Homo sapiens: one gene and its partners. Changing the gene in region 2 together with the main gene of any one other region gives a genetic interaction. Each region holds a gene or a part of one and is shown on either strand. Other genes may lie near its edges.

Evidence for each region. Genes that interact genetically often act in the same process or in processes that back each other up.
Region 1: changes in SPPL3 (region 2) and MAGI2 together harm fitness less than expected from each alone (positive genetic interaction), as found in Homo sapiens cells (one large-scale study listed by BioGRID).
Region 3: changes in SPPL3 (region 2) and SLC2A10 together harm fitness less than expected from each alone (positive genetic interaction), as found in Homo sapiens cells (one large-scale study listed by BioGRID).
Region 4: changes in SPPL3 (region 2) and BICRA together harm fitness less than expected from each alone (positive genetic interaction), as found in Homo sapiens cells (one large-scale study listed by BioGRID).

Annotation. Positions count from the first base shown.
Region 1 is NC_000007.14:78,019,612-78,022,667, reverse strand, and holds part of MAGI2 (membrane-associated guanylate kinase, WW and PDZ domain-containing protein 2), read left to right. Parts: intron 1-2,691; coding exon 2,692-3,056. UniProt on the Homo sapiens protein: Seems to act as a scaffold molecule at synaptic junctions by assembling neurotransmitter receptors and cell adhesion proteins. Plays a role in nerve growth factor (NGF)-induced recruitment of RAPGEF2 to late endosomes and neurite outgrowth.
Region 2 is NC_000012.12:120,771,859-120,775,358, forward strand, and holds part of SPPL3 (signal peptide peptidase-like 3), read right to left. Parts: intron 1-3,500.
Region 3 is NC_000020.11:46,730,149-46,733,648, reverse strand, and holds part of SLC2A10 (solute carrier family 2, facilitated glucose transporter member 10), read right to left. Parts: intron 1-3,500. UniProt on the Homo sapiens protein: Facilitative glucose transporter required for the development of the cardiovascular system.
Region 4 is NC_000019.10:47,612,134-47,615,633, forward strand, and holds part of BICRA (BRD4-interacting chromatin-remodeling complex-associated protein), read left to right. Parts: intron 1-3,500. UniProt on the Homo sapiens protein: Component of SWI/SNF chromatin remodeling subcomplex GBAF that carries out key enzymatic activities, changing chromatin structure by altering DNA-histone contacts within a nucleosome in an ATP-dependent manner.

The DNA of each region.
Region 1 (3,056 bases), on a different chromosome or scaffold from region 2:
GAAATAAATGCTAAGTCTTCTGCTTAAGGATAAGATCTGGTTCCTGTTGGTTGGCAGTGGCCACTGTTCTTGCCCATTTCACATACTTTAATCCTATTTGCAAGGTAACATCTTGGGACAGTTTCTAAGTAAAAAGAGTAAAGAAACCCAAATTTTTACTCCTAACTGGCCCATTTTGTAATCTTGGTCAAGTTAGTTAACCTCTCTCTACTTCAATTCCTCCTTCAGGAAATGGTGTGAGTAATATCAACCTTCTCCCCTTATCTAAGAAGTAATTTGAGGCCAGCTAATTAACTCTACCATATGTGATGTAATGATGGGGAAAAGAGCTATTAAAATGTGAAATATCATTACCATGGTCCAAGTCAGAGATCACTGTTGCACAAGCTACCCTCTAGTTAGGCCTTTTGAAGACCACTTTTTAACTCTTCTAAGCTGTATCTCGCTAGATGGGTGGATTGCCACCACTTATCATTTGTTAGTCTGATTTTAAACTCTAACCCACCCAAAAGTAGAACACATTCTCATTTTCATTGGATATATTTGCCTTTGAGGATTTCAGACTATTCCTTAAGGTAACCAAGGATACCTGAGGTGTAGCAAAATGACACCTGGGAATCACAGCACCTGGAAATGACTGCCTTATTGCACTTATTCAAAACCTCACCTGCAAAGGTACTAGTTAATGAGGCGGCTTCCACAGGAGCCCAATCCATAAGTAGGCAGCAGGTGGGGTACAGAAGAAAAATATGATTGACCCTCCCATTGCAAAGTGCTTTCCCTTAGAAAGTGTATGTCTCACATCTGTAAAGTTGGATATTTTATCCCCATCTTATAAAGGAAGAAATTGAGGCTCAGAGAGATTTAGTTGTTGGTCCAAAATCACGTCACCAGTAAATACATGCCAGAGCCAGGATTAGATTCCAGGACTTCTAGGATTTTACCATGTGAAAATGATAATGGACATCAGTGTATGGAAGAAGGAAGGTTAACATTATGCCCAAAATGTTCCATTCGAATTTCACATAGAATGAGAAACGTTTTTGATTTGCCATTCTAAAGATGGCCAGAATTATTGGGAAAACCATTGCCACTGCCCTTTTCCTCTCCTTATTGCTTTATAAATCAGTATCAAAGGTACTATATAAGAACCCTCAAGTTTCAAACAAAGTAGACCCTGGACATTAATGGACTGAGTATGCACAAGTATCACTGACAGCCTCTGACACGTTACAGAGGCAAGAGCTTGAATCACATGCACTGAGGTTGCTGTGTGGGACTGAATCTTTTAGCTAGTGAGGGAGGCTCACCTGGCACCCAGAATTCAAATCTATCAATGTGGTTTCTTCGTTCTCCACTCATGACCATATACCAATTCTGTGGAAGAAAAATTACACTCTAGAATATCACAAAATTTGAGCATTTCCAAGGTCATGAGACATATTTCTTACAAATATCAAGGATTCACAGTAATTGGATTTCCCTGCTTTCATTTCCCCTTAGTGGCCAGAAGCTCCAGGGAACTGTTGTTGCTCACAGTAGCAGCTAACTCATCTCAGATTCCTAATACATCTGTCCTTCTACTTGGCCTCTGACCAGCTGTTGCTTTAAAAAAAAAGTCATCTCTCATTTTAATCATTGTTTTATATGTGTTTTGATGTTGTCAATTGTCTTAAATCCTTTTTGGAAGTAGGTAACTTAAATCCTAAGTAAATGTTGGAACTAGACTTCCTAGAAAGAATTATCTTAGTCCTGGGGCCCTCCATAATGTTAGAAGTACTAAAAAGAATTAAGTTCCATCCGGACTTGGCAAAGAAAAAAAATGGAATTAAGGACGATTTTTTTTAAAAAATGATAGTTTTAAAATGTATTTATCCAAATTCTGAAACTGACAGCAGCTAGGAATATGCTTTGAGTGACACCTACTGGTTGAGAACGTCACTTCCCAACTTCCAGAGAACCCAGACCAGTGTTTCTCAAAGCTTGGCTCTAAACCAAGCTTGTCCAACCCGCCTCCAGCTTTGAATGTGACCCAACACAAATTTGTAAACTTTCTTAAAAGATTATGAGATTTATGCATGGACCTTTTTTTTTTGAGCCCATCAGCTATCGTTAGTGTATTTTATGTGTAGCCCAAGACAATTCTAATGTAGCCCAAAGAAGCCAAAAGATTGGACACCCCTGCTAGGCCACCTTTTTCAGAATGGGTGCCTGATAAAAATACAGAGGACTTCCTGGGCCCCGTGCTGCTGAAACCTCCGGGCCTGCTCCTCCCGGGGAATCTGTATTTTTCACCACCACCCTGGTGATTCCAAGGTCTACTCGAGTTGGAGACCCATTTATTCAAGGGCTGTCAAGTGAGCTGTCTATACAGGACTATCAGGCCCGAGAACACCCCCGGAAGTTAGCAGGGCCAAGGCGAAGGGATTAGGCCTGGGCTTCGCGTTGGCCTCCCCGGTCCACGGACGAGGTTCGGGGCGTGGGGGCTAAGCGGGGCGGAGGGAACCCCCAAATCCCCGGGGGCGCGGCCGCTGCCCTCTCGGCAGTGAGGGTGGGGGTGGGGGTGGGGGCGGCGGTGGCTCCGGCCCCTGAGAGCAATCGCCCCAGCTGCCTGCCCCTGTCCCCGGCGTAGAGAGGGCACGGGGACGTCCTGCGTGCGCCACTGCTAACGCCTGTGCTTCCCGTCCACAGACGAACCCGCCCCCTGGAGTTCTCCCGCTGCCGCCGCCCCAGGTCTGCCGGAAGTAGGCGTCTCCCTGGACGACGGCCTCGCTCCATTCTCTCCATCACATCCAGCCCCACCCTCCGACCCTTCCCACCAGATAAGCCCAGGCCCAACTTGGGATATCAAACGGGAACACGACGTTAGGAAACCAAAGGAGCTTTCAGCCTGCGGCCAGAAGAAGCAGCGCCTCGGGGAGCAGAGGGAGCGCTCGGCGAGTCCGCAGAGGGCCGCGCGGCCGAGGCTCGAGGAGGCGCCCGGCGGCCAGGGGCGGCCCGAGGCCGGCAGGCCCGCCTCGGAGGCCAGGGCGCCCGGGCTCGCGGCGGCAGACGCG
Region 2 (3,500 bases):
AACACAATTTCCCGCTCTCCACACATACTGTGTTCTTTTCACGCTCTACCCAGAAGGTCCTGCCCCCGGCTCCTTCATATGGAAAATCCATCCTCATTCTGGAAGAGCCAGGTCAGGAGTCCTTTCTCAGAGTCTTTCCTGATCCAACCAGTCAGTTGCTGCTGCTCTTTTTTTGTTTTTTTGAGACAGAGTTTTGCTCGTTGCCCAGGCTGCAGTACAATGGTGCAATCTCAGCTTACTGCAGCTTCCACCTCCTGGGTTCAAGTGATTCTCCTGTCTCAGCCTCCCGAGTAGCCGGGATTACAGGCATCCATCACCACACCCAGCTAATTTTTGCATTTTTAGTAGAGACAGGGTTTCACCATGTTGGTCAGGCTGGTCTCAAACTCCTGACCTCAGGTGATCCACCCACCCCGGCCTCCCAAAGTGCTGGGATTACAGGCATGAGCCACCGCGCCCGGCCCAGTTGCTTCTTCTATGTGATGTGCCATAGAACGTTGAATGTCTCTCAACTCACTCATCCATTCTATGACCTTGTGAATATTTACATACTGGTAAGTTTATTCCCTGTGCTAGCTGACCACGTGCTCCTGGGAAACAGAAACCATGTCTGATTCTTTCTGTGGATCCCTAGCACTTGACAGAGTAGACATTCAATAAATACTTGCTGAATGAATGCAAAACTGTGTTCTATTAACTTCAAATTTCAAATTATTCTAAGGAAAGTAAAAAGCCATATGAACAGATATATTTCATTTTCATAGAACTGGTGGTAAATTGTCAATATATGTAATAAAGTGGATAAATACAGCAGCTTGGCAGACCCTGGACACATCAACTAAATTACTGTTTCATGGGTTCCTACTGTGTGCACGGTGCTAATATAAACACAGAGGAGAAAAAGCTGCCTCATCCCTACAACTCAGAGGAGTTGGAAAGACAGTATTCAACCTAGGAAGAGCAAAATATATATCTTCATCTCCACTATCATCACTGTTATCAAGCGCTCACTGAGTTACAGGGTGAGCTGCAGTGTGAGTTCTGGAGAGATGTGGTCAAGATCTAATTCCTGACTTTATAATCATATAGAATGTTTATTATACTAAGGTCTCCTTTAATTTTTAAATAAATTCATACAACCAACCTGGTAAAATGTATACAAATGCATGTCATTTGAAATGAACCTAATGAAATGTATTAGTCAGTGAGGCTTGACAAAGCTCAGAGCATTCAGAGCTGCAAAGGGATGACTGAAACATGATGTTTAGGACACTGAGAGATGTACCCAGAGCCCCTGCTCTGATCAACTCACACGCATATTTGAAAGGACAGGACCTCCCATGATCATCATCTTTAGGAAACAAAGATTTGGTTGTGTCATGAGTCAATAACCAGGACATTACCAGGGAGCAGCTCATCTGGCTGGAGGAACAACAGTGGTCAGCAGCAGGTGGGAAGCCCATCGGGCCAGAGCACAGGTGAGACACAGGTTTGTGTATAGATACTGGCTAGGGTGATCTGTTCATGGACTTACAGGTGAATACATGGAATGCAAGGCATCAAGGGCACGAAGAAAGTAACAGAAGGCCTAGGATGGACAGACGGGAGACAGGAGTCTGCGGGGAGTGAGGGTCAGAGGACTGAATGATGCAGCTCACCAGTAACCAAAAGCGGGGCAGGGAAACAGACTGAACAGAGAAGCAAGAGGCCAGGCTCCTCGGGGTAAGTTTATTCGCCTCTGTGACACATGTAGACGACCTGTCCCTTCCTGACCTTTTCTTTTTGGAGATGGAGTCTTGCTCTGTCGCCCACGCTGAGTGCAGTGGCACAAGCTTGGCTCACGGCAACCTGTGCCTCCCAGGTTCAAGTGACTCTCAAGTGACTACCAGCGCCCGCCACCATGCCCAACTAATTTTTGCATTTTTAATAGAGATGGGGTTTCACCATATTGGTCAGGCTGGTCTTGAACTACTAACTTCAGGTGATCCACCTGCCTCAGCCTCCCGAAGTGCTGGGATTACAGGCATGGGCCGCCGCGTCTGGCCCTTCCTGAACTTTTGTACTCAATTTGCCATAGAATCACTTCATCCTAACTGCGCAGGAGCCTTGAAAGGTCACAAGGTCTGAGCATCCACCTGCTGCTTTGTCATTCATCTCATGCTAATCCTCCTCCACCTGCGTCTAAACTAAACATGGAACAGACTGCTCAGTGACTGGGTTTTCCATGACTCCAGACAGTGTCATTCTATCCTAACCTTCCAAATAAGAAAGTCTGGGTTCATCTTCAACACATCACAGCCTCTCATCATACACATGAAATCTGCAGCCATTCTGAGGTGTTATCCTTTACTGTTACTGCAGACCTTGCTCACACCTCCACCCACTTCCTACTTTGCTGTGTCTCCTTTCCCTCCCTCCCTCTTACTCTTTCCCATGTACTGTTCACTGCCACTGTCAAACATCTGTTCACATAATTTCCTGCCTGAAGGTCACCAGGTTCCCTTCTCTATGACGAATCAAGTCTAATTATAAAGTTGCATAAACTCAGGAGGCACAACCTCCACAGAGTGGAGCTGAGCACCATGCTGGCTCTGCCTTGGCATCTGTCTGAACGGGTTCCTATTCCTCAGCCTATCCCTTCTCTCCATCTGCGTTAAGCTGAACACCCTCTTTCCAATTAGACCATCTAGGTCCTCCCCACTCTAGTCTAAGTTCCGTGTATGAAGAGGCAGAAGGCATCCTTTTGACTGTCTCAGAGAAGGCTCTTAGAGGCATGTGGAATAAATACCACTCTGACCCAGCGAACACTGCCACAAGCAATGTCGTATTCCCAGAACATGCTCTCAATCTAGTTTGCCTGCCTTTCATTCTGTCATTCAAGTAACCCTTAAAAAATCTTACCTCCTCCTCAGGGCTTTTCAAGGCTAAAGTGAAGGGAGGTGCTCTCTTTCCCTTGCGGCTTTAGACACTCCTGAGACTCTCTCTTATAGGTTTACCAACACACTTAACTTTTGGTTAAATGTACATTAACCAAAAGTGTTGGGGGAAGTAAATGATTAATCTTAGCCATTTAGCTAGAGTTATTTTCAATTTATCACTGATATCTCTGTATTACATTGTCTTCTACAACCAGTGAGTCAGGGACAAAGACAGTGACACCAAACCGAGCTCAAATGTTCTCTACGAGGATGACATAACCTGTAAGGTTTCTAAGCAGTGCTCACATTCGCGATACAGGCTCTCTAGATATCTATGCCCTATGTGGAGTCAGCGCACCAAGAGTGTAGCATTTTATTTATTTATTTATTTAGAGGCAGAGTCTCACTCTGTTGCCCAGGTTGGAGTGCAGTGGTGCAATCTCAGCTCACTGCAACCCCTGCCTTCCAGGTTCAAGTGATTCTCCTGCCTCAGCCTCCCAAGTAGCTGGGACTACAGGTGCATGCCAGCACACCTTGGTTAATTTTTTTATTTTTAGTAGAGATGGGGTTTCACCATGTTGG
Region 3 (3,500 bases), on a different chromosome or scaffold from region 2:
TACCATGACCCTTCCTGCCTCCTGCCTTATTACAAATGTCCACCTTCTCTCACCTGGACCCCCTAGCAGCTCCTCCCTGGTCTCCCTGGGTCTTCCCTGGCCTCCTATAGCCCCTTGTCACCATTGCATCTACAATGACCTTCCTAAACGCAAAAATCTGTCACTCTCCACTGATATGGTTTGGATCTGTGTCCCCACCAAAATCTCATGTTCAATTGTAATTCCGTGTTGGAGGTGGGGCCTGATGGGAGGTGATTGGATCATGGGGGCAGCTTCTCATGAATGGTTTAACACCATCCCTTTTGGTAGTGTCCTTGAGATGGTGAGTTCGTTCTCATGAAATCTGGTGATTTAAAAGTGTGCAGCACCACCCCCTGCTCCCGCCATGGAAGATGTGCTGGCTGCCCTTCGCCTTCCGCCATGATCGTAAGTTTCCTGAGGCCTCCCTGGAAGCTAAGCAGACAACAGCATCATTCTTCCTGTACAGAGTGCAGAACTGTGAGCCAATTAAACCTCTTTTCTTTATAAATTACCCAGTATTTCTTCATAGCAATGTGAGAATGGACTAATACATCTGCTCAGAAGGAGACCATCATCATGCTCAGCCTAACATCCCATCTTCTCACCATGGCTGCCCTCCCCCACACCAACCCCTCCAGTCCCATTTGCTCATCACGCCTTGGCCACATAGGCCTCCTGTCTCTCCCTTCAAAACTCCTAACTTGTTTCCACCTCCGGGCCTTTGCTCTTGCTGTTCCCTCCACCTAGAACATTTCTTCCAGCTCTTGAAACTGTTTCTTCTGCTTGAACATTTCTTCCAGCTCTAGAAACCATTGACTTTTTCTTGTAATTCCAGTCTCAGCTCAGAGCAGCCTTCCTTGAGCATCATTCATTCAGCCAGAGATATGATTAAAGATGACAGTGCCAGGCACTGTTCTAGGCCCTGGAAACAGGGCAGTGAGTGAAACCGATACACAAAAATATCACCGTGCTTGTTGAAAATTCCTGATACACTTGTAACACAAATGCACCCATAGCTGTTTGCACCCTAGCTAAAGAAACTATCCATTTCCCAAATCTGCTGTTCACCCCCTGGTAGGTTAACCTGCCTTATTTTCTTCATGATATAAAAACTCTGAATTATCTTATTTGTGCATTTTTGAGTTTTGTAGTCTATCTCTCTCCTATACATTAAAATGTAACTTCCTTCTAAGTCCAGAGACAGGGTCTCTCCCGGTCATGGGTCTGTCCCCAGAGCCTACTACAGTGCCCGGCACTTGAAAATATTTGCTGAAAGTTGAATGAATCGATTCCTGAGAAACTGGGATAAAACAGGAATTTTTGAATTTTTTTTGTTATATCCCCTGAGGGATTGGTAAAGGTCTCTTTTGAGCAGAAATAACCTGATAAGAAGGCAAAATAAACAACATTTCGGCAACCAATTGCCATTGATTGATGTAAGACGATTTGAGCCCCTTGTATTACTAATGTGTCCTTAAAGCAGGTAGAGGAGCTGGATCCATAAGATGTAGGTCCCCATTTCCAACAAGCACATCTGAGGCACAGGGATGCAGAATAAGTCAGCCCTACAGCAGTGGGTGACGGCTCTACCGGCATCTGCCTCCCATTTTTGGGGAACGTGGCATGTGGCTTGACTGGACTGTCAATCAAGGATCTCTGCCCTATCCTGGCTAAGTTAGGGGTTAGGAGGTGGGCACATAAACCAGCCTTGGCCAATCAGACTTTCTCCTGGGACCATGGCTCTTGTATGGAGGACACAGGAGTGAAAATAGTTGCTGCTGAAAAGACTATCCCATTAGTTCCTGCTGTCAAAATCCCTGGACATGCCCTGGTCCCTGTGTTCCTAAAGTCGAGTTTCTCTCTCTCTCTGTGGCCTCTGATATCAAGAGCCCCCTGAACTCTAGGGACAGAGATGATAAAACACAGACCTGCCTCTGGACTCCACAAAAACCCCTAACTTCCTGTCTTCTCCAGAGTCATAGCAGACCCAGCCTCCAGTCCCCAAGGGCTGGCCTTGGCTCCCCCCATGTAACCCCAGGTCCAGGCTGACACCCCGCAGCTGCAGTCACATCCTGCCTTACCCCAAAGCTGGCTCCCACCAGCGTTTCTGCCTCCGTTGCTTTTTATCCCAGAGGATGGATTTGGAATCTTCTCCCAAGAAAACCAGTGTGGCAGAGATGCCAGGCAGCTGTCTAGTAACAGAACCCTCGATTTTTAGCTGGGCACATGGCTGCCCAGATTGAAGACCACATTTCTTGGCCTCCCCTGCATATAGGTGTAGCCAAGTTCTATGGAAAGTCATGTGGGTGGAAGTGACCTTGAGGACTGTGCCCACCCCTTCCCCTCCCCCATCCTCTGGCAGGTATGTGGGGGTGCACCTCCTTAGGCCATGCAGGAAAGGTGATATGGAAGAGGTGGCAGAGCAACAAGACAGAAGGAGCCTGGGACCCTACATGAGCTCATGGCATGCTGCATCCACCCAACCCTGGACCCCCAACCGACATTTGGACGACTTCAAGCAGCCAAATCGATTTCCTAACTAATACAGCTGGGTTGCTGAGGCGCCTGCCGAAACTGCAGAAGGTTCCACTCAACAAAGTAGGAGAGAACATTCTGGGGTGGGGAGGACTGGGTCACAGGTTCTTACATTAGGATCCAGATTGGGGTGGGGCTTAGCAGCCAGTGCAGGGATGCTAGTCAATAATAGAATGATTTTTTAAAACGTTTTATGACTTCCCAGAAACAGAATGGGCAGTCAGGAGCTGGTGACTATCACCTGCTTTTAAGAGGTAACTGGGGATATTTGCCAAGGATGCTTAGGACTGTAGCACTTTGAAGTTCCTTCTGAAGCTCCCATTTCACTCTTCTTTTATTTGAACAGCCTAAGGTCTCATGATGCTAAGATTCTGAACTCCCCTCAATAACCTGAAGACCTGATGTGATCCTACCCATCTGGCCTGTCTGACCCTCCACGCTCTTCCCTTCCTCCCTCTGTTCCAGGCACACTGGCTTCCTTGTTGTTCCTTGCACATGCCAGATACATGCCCACCTCAGGGCCTTTGCACTTGCTGTTCCTTCTGCTTAGAATGCTCCTCCCCTCATCATTACGTGGGTGCCTCCTTCTCACTAACTTAAATTCCACCTCCTCTGAGACGACTTCCCTCCCTCACCACCCACTCTACTTCAGCCACAACCCCTTTCTTCTTTGTTCCTCCTGTGTCAACCTGGCCCTCTCAACATATTTTGCTCTGCTTCATTTTCTCCTAATTACTCATCACCAACTAAAACGCTCTTGTTTATGCATTTGTTGGCTTCCCTCCCCCATCAAATGGAAGCTCTTGAGGACAGGCACTTTGTCTTCCTTAATCTCAGCATGTTTCCTAAGGCTCTGAACACTGTCTGGCACAGAGTAAGGACTTAATAAATAGCCACGGAATGAATGCATGAAGCCCACAAGCGTTTTGCGTGCAATGTTTAAA
Region 4 (3,500 bases), on a different chromosome or scaffold from region 2:
GCCAGGTGCCATGGCTCACACCTGTAACCCCAACACTTGGGGAGACCGAGGCTGGAGGATTGCTTGAGCCCTGGATTTTAAGACCAGCCTAGGCAACACGGTGAGACCCTGTGTCTACAAAAAATGAAAAAATTAGTTGGGCATGGTGGCACTCACCTGTGGTCCTAGCTACTTGGGGGTGCTGAGGTGGGAGGATTGCTTGAGCCTAGGAGTTTGAAGCTGGGGTGAGCCGTGATTGTGCCACTGCTCTCAAGCCTGGGCAAGAGTGAGACCCTGTCTCAAAAAAAAAAAATAAATAAAATAAAAAATGTAAAGGTGAGTGGCAGAATACCTTTGCCCCAGAAGAATTCCCTGTGGTCTGGGAAGGCCACCTGCAAACGAACAATTCCCCTTCAGTGACACGCACCCTCTGAGCGCTTTGGGGACTAGGCCCCTACCCCTTCAGCACTTTACCCATGCGGAATACATGCTTAGCTGTAGGGGCTGGGGGGCTGAGGGAGAGGGGCTGGGGGGCTGACGGAGAGGGGCTGGACCCAGCTCACCCAGTGTAGGAGGTAATACAGGTGATCTTGCCATTTTACAGATGGGGAAACTGAGGCCAGGGGAAGCATGTTCCACGGCCGAGCTGGGACTCCAAGCCAGACGGCAGAGACTAGTGGTGGGGGTTCCGTATTTGTCAACAGAACTGGGGAGATGGTGCTTCATGGGGTCTGATCCCAGGAGCTTTAAGGGACCCCTTATCCCCGCAGCCACTGTCCCCTCCTTTAAGTGCAGTTATTTCCCTTGGCGAGATGACAGGCATAAGTAATAAGAATTCTCGGGGGAGGTGGGCAGGAGGAGAGGGGCTGTGGGGACACCCAGATCTCTCAAGATTGAGTGCTGGCTGAATGTAGGAACTGATCTTTTTGGGGGGCTGGTGGGAGAAGTCCGAGTGAGGCCCTAGAGGGTCTCCCGGCTGACTTCCTTCTCAGAGGCCTGTGGCCCTTCCCTAACCTTCCTTCAGGAGGTGGGGTGTGCCCCAGGCTGTGGAAGGGCCAGGGGATCAGCACCCAGAGGCCTATGAAGGGGGAGTTCCTGGGGGTGTATAAGGCTCCCCAGGTTCCCGTGGGCCACCTTGTAGCCCAGGTCTAGCCAGCAGCCCAGTTCCCCCGCCAGCTCTCAACCCCCACCCGCCAGGCTGCCTTGACTCCAGGTCTCAAGAATGCAGAAGGCTGCTGGTAGGGGAAGTTAATTGGAAACAGGAAAACATGGCATTCCTTTCCAGGCCGCCTGGGCTTGGAAGGCAGAGGGGCTGCCATTTCCCTTCTCCCGCCCTGCAGGGGAGAGGGGTGGGGAGTATGGTTATCTTGCCCTGGTCATATTTGAGCTTTCTTCCCCGACCAGGCACCCTCACTTAGTAGAAACAAGAGCAGTCACCCGTGCCGTGTCCACGATGACAACTGCTGCCTGCTCCCCCAGCAGAAGAATTGCCCCCTCCTTACTCACCCCTTCATATCCCTCTGGTTTTTTGTCCCCTGTCTTGTCTGAGCTAGCTCCCTGGTAGGATGCACCTTATGCCACACTAGAGACGCATGGGGAGCGTTTGGTTGAGGGGTCCCCAGGGAGTGTCTCCTGGTTCCGTCCCTCGCATTCTCCTCTGCCTGGAGTACCACCAGTAGAGTTTTGTCCCAGTTGACTGAAGCTTTTGTGTCTCAGTGACACGCAAGTTTCCCCAGTGGAGAGGGAGAGTTTTCTAAGGCATTTCTAGTTTGGTGACAATTAGTTTTGTGTATGAGTGTATGTATTCATTGGGGGGAGGGGGAAAGGAGTGTTGGCACAAGCAGAGAAGGCCTTTGTTTCTTTAATTGTTCCCAATTAAACTTCCTGAGGGCCTACTGTGTGACAGGGCCCTGGGGATCAGTTAAGACCTTGGGACACAGTCCAGGAGGAGGAGAGAGAACGGTTGGATTAGCCGCTGTGGGGTTTCATTCATTCTGTCTGGGTGGTCTGAGACATCATCTTTTTCTCTGTCTGCCTTTTGTTCCTTTTGTTCTAAGTGATACACACACGGGGCAAATTCAGAACACTAAAGATGGTGTCTCTCCCTCTAACCTCTCCAGAATCCCTGGTCCCCTAGCTCTCTTCCCCAGAGACAGCACCTCCATTCTGATGTTCTGTGCATGTACTTTTATATATGGATGTTATGTGTTTAAAACTATTCAGGCCGGGCATGGTGGCTCACGCCTGTAATCCCAGCACTTTGGGAGGCTGAAGTGGGCAGATCACCTGCGGTCAGGAGTTCAAGACCAGCCTGGCCAACATGGTGAAACCCCATCTCTCCTAAAAATACAAAAATGAGCTGGGCATGGTGGTGCATGGCTGTAATCCCAGCTACTCAGGAGCCTGAGGCAGGGGAATTGCTTGAATGCAGGAGGCGGAGGTTGCGGTGAGCCGAGATTGCGGTAGCACTGCACTCCACTCCAGCCTGGGCGACACAGCGAGACTCTGTCTAAAACAAACAAACAGACAAACAAAAAACTATTCATCTTACACAGATGGTAGTCTGGTCTATGCATTGCTTTTTTTCCACGCTTCATCTCCCTGGGAGACCCTACCAATGTAGGTCTTCCTCTATCTTTTTCTTGGCTGCATGGTATTCCTCTGTGTGGGTGAATCCTCCTTTACTGTTATGGACGTGGAGGTGTTTCCAAAGGTTTCTGTGTGAAGCATGGGAAGGCATACGTCCGCACATGTTACAGGGAAATGAGTACGCCTGTGGGATAGACTCCTGGAAGTGGGATTGCTAGATCAAGGGCCAGTGATTTGTCTTTTGGTAGCTCTTACGGAGCACCTTTGATGTTGCACGTTGCATCTTTTTTTATTTTTTTGAGACAGAATCTTGCTGTGTCACCCAGGCTGGAGTGCAGTGGCGCCATCACTTTTCACTGCAGCATTATCCTTCCTGGGCTCAAGTGAGCCTCGCATCTCAGCCTCCCCAGTAGCTGGGACTACAGGTGCACGCCACCACGCCCAGGGAGTTTTAATATTTTTGGTAAAGACGAGGTCTCACTGTGTTGCCCAGGCTGGTCTTGAAATCCTGTTCAAGCACTCCTCCCGCCTTGGCCTCCCAATGTGCTGGGATTACAGGCGTGAGCCACCGTGCCCGGCCCCTCATGCTGCACCTTGAAGAAAGTTGTTCTCTTTCTCTCCTCTTCAATGTGATCCCACCTGTCGCCCAGGCAGCATCTCCAGGCTGCACGTGTCTTTGCCTCAGGTGACCTCCTTGTGTCTGATGACCTCCTTGCCTCTTCCTCCTGCTTATGGCCTGCGTCATGTGCTTGCCACCTGGTGTGGAGGTCAGGAGCGTGGGCTCTGGGCCCTGCCTGTTGGTTCTAATCCCAGTTCTGCTATTTGCTGGCTGAATGGCTGTGGACAGGGGACTTGCTTGGGGCCTTGGTTTTCCCCTCTATTAAGTGGGTTCATATCAGTACCTACTTGGTAAGGCTCTTGTGAGGGTCCCC